2 separate regions of the Homo sapiens genome follow, and region 2 is linked to region 1. The links come from fine-mapping of genetic effects on gene expression. A gene starts in region 1. The other region holds a variant in brackets. All regions are shown on one strand. Distances are between the middles of the regions. Region 1 holds the start of ETNPPL (ethanolamine-phosphate phospho-lyase). Region 2 has its middle 150 kb from the start of LEF1.

What was found. PIP is the estimated chance that this variant, and not a neighbour inherited with it, causes the effect.
Region 2: its variant is the best candidate, but not a certain one, in a credible set for the expression of ETNPPL in stomach (GTEx, PIP 0.62).

Annotation. Positions count from the first base shown.
Region 1 is chr4:108,761,897-108,764,808 of GRCh38, forward strand. ETNPPL (ethanolamine-phosphate phospho-lyase) reads right to left here and starts at 1,157. Exons shown (of 13, transcript NM_031279.4): 1 at 947-1,157. The coding sequence starts at 1,002.
Region 2 is chr4:108,312,627-108,315,538 of GRCh38, forward strand. No RefSeq gene overlaps it. Among named protein-coding and RNA genes, the nearest start is that of LEF1, 150 kb to the left of the region's middle. The variant A/C (reference allele first, on the strand shown) is at 1,320.

The DNA of each region.
Region 1 (2,912 bases):
TTGTAACCCCAAGTGCTCTCTCATGCCCACTGGCCCGGCTGCAGTCGTTCATTTCAAGTGAATATTGCAGACGGTTGACTTTACAGTATTCGGGGTCATTAATCATCATTTATATTTACACGTATCTTTTTAAAAACCACGCACAAAACACTAACATATTAATCTCATCTTCTTGCTCCTGTGAAGTAGAATGTTATTCCTACTTTCATAGAAGAGACAATTAATTTGACAGAGGTCCACACAGGGAATATGACATCCAACGAGAGCTAGAGCCCCTGTCGGTCTTATATACTCACCTTTATATTACTAAGTCGTTTGTGACGGGGGCAAGACAAGCAGGCTGGGAAGAACACAGCTTGGGAGAGCAAGTTGGGTAAGAGGGATCTAAATAAAGTCTCTGCTTTTCTAACAGAAGGTGGTTTCAAGTTTTTCTATTGGCTAGATAAACCCTTCATCACTTAACCAAGCATGCAAGAAGAAAAAGCTCACTTTAAGTAAAAATTGTCAGAATTGGTTTGTTTGCGGAGCCATCATGAAAAAATATTTCTCAGTTCACAGTTTCCAAAAACTTTCGAGTTGTGTGGGGGTGGCGGAGCGCTATCCTTCTTCCACCCATCTCCCATCCCTGGAATGGTGTCTGCTAGGGCTATTGGCCGTCATCCACCAACCCCTCTAGCCGGCCGGCAGCCCCCGCTAGTCCGCCGGCTGCAGAGCGAGCCGGGGACTTTCGAGCGGGCAGGAAGCCCAGCGTTCCGGGTTCCAGGAGCGTTTCTGGGAGTCCGCGCGGCCCCTGCAGGTGGAGGCGCGCGGGGCGCGTGCACAGGCGCGGCGGGCACGGAGTGCGGCTGCAGCGCATCGTTTGTTCCCTAGCCGGCTTTCTCTCTCCACCTTCTGCACTCGTTATTGCCCCCTCTCTGCACTTACTTCCGGGCCAGGGTGCCCTTACCCGATGTGCTTCTTCCTCAGCCCCAGAGTGTCCCGCTTACTGTACAGCTCGCACATGGTGGCGGGGTGCAGGGCGCTGCGAAGGTGCAAGGTGCAAGGTCTGCGCGCCTCCTACGCGAGCCTGGGACTGCCTTGGCGGCCCCGGCCGGCCTTCCTCCCGTTATCCCTCCTGGCGTTCTCTTGCCCGGGGCGTCGGAGGTCACCGGTGGCGTCAACTAGCTAGGATCATCTCCCTTTTAAGTCTGGCTCTGGCGTTGCCCTTTGCCAAGCCCCTCCTCCTCCCCCGCCGGGGCCGCGGGCAGGTCGCCGGGCTAGCAGCTCATTCGCCACCACCCTGTCCTGCCAGGCCGGCTCGGCCCTACCCGCCCCTATCATTCCTCTGAATTCGCCTTTCATTCTCCTAACTTTGCCTCGTCTTTGCTTTTCCTCCTCCTCTGCCTGCGAATTCCCTCCTTCCCACGTTCTTTCTGGTTTCTTTTTAGTGTAGTCCTTTATTTTCTGGTAAAAATTCAGGAGTTAGGCGCTTCCCGGATCAAGACTCACTGCGCAGTCTGATAAGGTAACCTACCATTTACTCAGCACAAGGACGCGTCCTAACGAGAAATAACCCGGACTCAGCCTGTTATCTCCATTGGCAGTGATGATATATGCAGTGTTTCAAACATCTCCTTTAACAATGATTACACTTCTAATTCCTCTAACTATACAACTTACAAAACACATTCACATGACTTATCTTGTTCAGTCTTCAAAACAACCCTGAGAGATGACCACGAGTGTTACCCCATTTAATGAACGGGGAAAGTGAGGTTATTCCCTGTTCTAATGATTATATATCCACTTGATGCTGAAAACGGGACTCATTCTTAGATTTCTTGACTTCCTTCAAGATGGTCTTCTCACACAGATCATATCTGAAGCTAAATATGTGCACAGGTAGAAACTTTTTTTTTTTTTTTTTTTTTTTTTTTTTTTTTGAGGATGGAGTCTGGCTCTGTCACCCAGGCTGGAGTGCAGTGGCGCAATCTCGGCTCACTGCAAGCTCCGCCTCCCGGGTTCACGCCATTCTCCTGCCTCAGCCTCCCGAGTAGCTGGGACTACAGGCGCCCGTCACTACGCCCGGCTAATTTTTGTATTTTTAGTAGAGATGGGGTTTCACCATGTTAGCCAGGATAGTCTCGATCTCCTGACCTCGTGATCCCCCCGCCTCGGCCTCCCAATAGAATCTTAATTAACTGAATCATTAAATCATACATTATTTTAACTAGAAGTCATCTGGTTTAACTTCTCTGCTCTGTAGATAAGAACAGTGAGGCACAGGAAAGGTGAAGGTTTATTCAAGTTCACACAAACACTTAGTCATTGGGTTAAGGATAGGTCATTTTATTCTCTCTGTGTTTTGAAAGGGCAGCAGGGAAAGCCTAATTTGCATGTATCAACACATTTGATAAGTATTTGCAACTGATCTTTCTCTTGAAAAAAGTTATTAATATATATTCATGCACTGCAGGAGGAGTAGAATTGGATTGCCTAAGGTAGAAAGAGAAATGGAGTCCTATGAGGAACAGTGTGTTAATTCCAGATTTTAGGCCAGGCGCCGTGACTCACGCCTGTAATCCCAACATTTTGGGAGTCCAAACTGGGCGAATCACCTGAGGTCTGGAGTTCCAGACCAGCCTGGCCAACATAGCAAAACCCCATCTCTACTAAAAAAATACAAAAATTAGCTGGGCGTGGTGGTGGGCACCTGTAATCCCAGCTACCCAGGAGGCTGAGGCAGGGAGAATTGCTTGAACCTGGGAGGCAGAGGTTGCAGTGGGTTGAGATCATGCCACTGCACTCCAGCCTGGGCAACAGAGTGAGACTCCATCCCCCTCCACAAAAAAAAGAAAAAAAAAAGAATTCCGTGTTTTATAAATGAAGAGCAGGAAGCACTTTGGAGACTTGCAAGAAATCCCAGTTATGTA
Region 2 (2,912 bases), 450 kb before region 1:
CTGGCACCATTTGCTGAAGATGTTTTTTAATACTGTCAAGTGATTCATAATTATAAAGGGTGAATGGACTATGTTTGCTCTGTAGTGGTTATGCTGAGACTCATTAAGTACTTTCTGCATCCAGGAGTTCTGTTTTATGTAAACAAGACCTCTGAGGAATATATAGATGGGTAATAAAGATGAAAGGAAATGAAGTATATTAACATGAGGACAAATTAATAACGGCCTTTCCATCTTCTAACAGGAAAATCAGTTGCTGTGGAATAATTGCACTTTTCAATGCAAAGGGGAGCAAAAATCCAGACAAAGCAATAGACAGAAGACAGACAAAATCAGACAGGGCTCTGGGGTCAAACTACTTTATGGAGATAGTCTGCACTTTGGAAAACTTACCTGCTTTCCTGGCCAGGCTTCTGATGGGACTTGCAGAGAGCTTTTACTTGGCCACAAATGAAATCATCTTTAATGTTTTGTAATGGACAGTGGGGCATGAAGAGGTTCTCTTCTTCATAAAGGGACAGGGAAAGGAGGGTAGGAGAATACAAGTACTGAAATGGCAGAAAAGGTAAGATTAACCAAATCACCATCTTATTTCTCTTCACATAAAAGAGTCGGAGCCTGTGTTTTGAGATTTGCTTGAAATAAATAACAGCATTGATAAGACAAGGCTGAGCTAACATGGATAGATCTGTTTTCCTATCAGCAATGCACTGTCTGAATTCCTAGACAAGTATGTCGGCTAAACTGAGTTTCCAACTGAGCAGACCCTATATAGGTCACTGTAATATACAAACTATAACACAGCAAAGATGCCCATTGGGTCACCCAGATCTTTACTTGGCTCAAGGCTGCTAGTACAGAGTTAGCAAGTAGATAGCTCCAAAGGGCCTACCCCATGTACTGAATTTCAGAAGGTATTTCCACCCCAAAGATGGCCTGCTTTCTCAACCTGCAGGCATTTCTCTACCCCTGGCATAGAGCTGACTTGCTGCCTGCTGGGCTTCCAAAACTCCAGATTTACACCTCTGGTGCTTTGCTCAGACCAGGGCTGGAACTAGGATGAGAGGCAAGCCAGACGTGGGGTGGGAGGGGTAAATTTAAGGAGGCACTACATCTCAGGTCCCGAACCGACACTTGTACTTCCTTGAAAGTAAGTGCTTCCTTAAATTTTGCACCCAGGAGCTTCCCTTGCCTCACCCTACTTTGGGCCTTGGACTCCAGAGTCTCTGGTGAGAGATCTGTGGATTGTGTTAGTGCAGGAAGCCTCACAGCCAGATCACTCTCACTCTGCTTGATAGCTCTTCTGTTTACCTCAACTA[A/C]CTTCTCTCTCTATATTACTCAGTTTAAAGAATTTGAAGACTGGAAACCTTGCATGGCATCTTAAAATGCAGAGCAAGGGGCCCATGTTGCTTTCTTGTTGAGCTCAGAGCAGGCCTGACTATGCAAAGGCTGAGATCAGTCCTGGAGCCACGCCGACTAACCCAAGACCAAGACATCCCAGGGACTCAGGGATGCTCCTCCCAGGACTGGCTTAGAAGGGGCCTGCTTGGTTATAATGCTCTGCTGTTACAGCCTTGACATTTTAAATAATTTTTAAACAAAGGGCCCTGTGTTTTTATTTTGCTTTGAATCCTGAAAATTATGTATTATAGTTGATCTTGGCTCTACTTACAACAAATTAAAAATATCTAGTGTGTCAAATGCTCCCTGCCCCTTTAACACCCTTCTTGATTGTTATTGGAGTACACACAAGCCCTTACGGTGGTCCGTAAAACCCTGCTTTGTTGGGCCTCAATTCACTCTCCAGCCCTGCATTGTCCCTTCCTTCTTGTTACCTGCTTTCTGGCCTTCTTGCAGTCCTCAAGTGCACCACATTCCCTCTCACCTCAGGGCCTTTGTACAGGCTGTTTCCTCTGCCTGGAATCCTCTTCTCCAGCCCCACTCCCCAAATCTGGCTGCTACTGCTTGTCCTTCAGTTCTGAGCTCAGACATTAATTTCTCAGGAAAGCGCTGACCCACCAGGCTAGACTGAACCCCACGTCGTATATTCTCACGGTGCTTCTTCAGCGCCTGCCACAATGTATAATTAAATCTTTGTCTGATCATCTGATTAGTGTCTCTATTACCACGTGATTCCACATGAGACAGGGACTGTGTGTCTTTTGTTCACTTTCGTAGGTTCAAGGCCTAGCATAGTGCCAGGCACTTATTACAGCAAGCACTCAGTAAATAGTTGTGAAGGGAAGGGTAAGGGAGAAGCCCAGGGTATTCCTGTCTGGGGATGTTGTGTCGGGGGAGGCAGGGTGGGGAGATGTTGGAGGTGGGAGGTGGGCTGAGGGGAGGTAACCTCTGGAAGGATCTGAAGCAAAGCTGAATGCCCTTTGGCTGTTGACTTCCAGGCTCAGATACCCAATGCTCTCAATCTGAAGTCATCCTCAGAAGCCAGCTCAGCTCCACACTAGCCTCTGGTGAGGGGAGATGATGAATGAGCAAAGTTTAATCACATTGAATTCAATTTGCTGATGGTCAACCTAGGTATCTCAATAATTAGGGGAAAATATACTGTGTGTTAGTAATTTCTAACGAGCATGCAAGGTTTCAGTTTGCAGCGTGGTCTGCTAAGCATTTTAATAGTTTGAGTTTTCTTCTTATATTTGCCTTCCTTATTTAGCGGTATACTTCCCTTTGGGGATTTTATTCCCTTTGATAGACTTGTGAAAGTATAATTTTTTTCTAACTCTGTGGTGTATTTTGTCTCTTTGCTTCCTTTATCTTTTCTTTTGCAAGCCACCGAAAGTCATGTGTTAGTCTTTGATTTCCTTCTATGGTCCCACATACCTTTCTTGTAGATTTTTTCCTTGTGATCTTTGAAATATCCTCCACAAGTTCAAAGTGACCGCTACTTGTTGTAG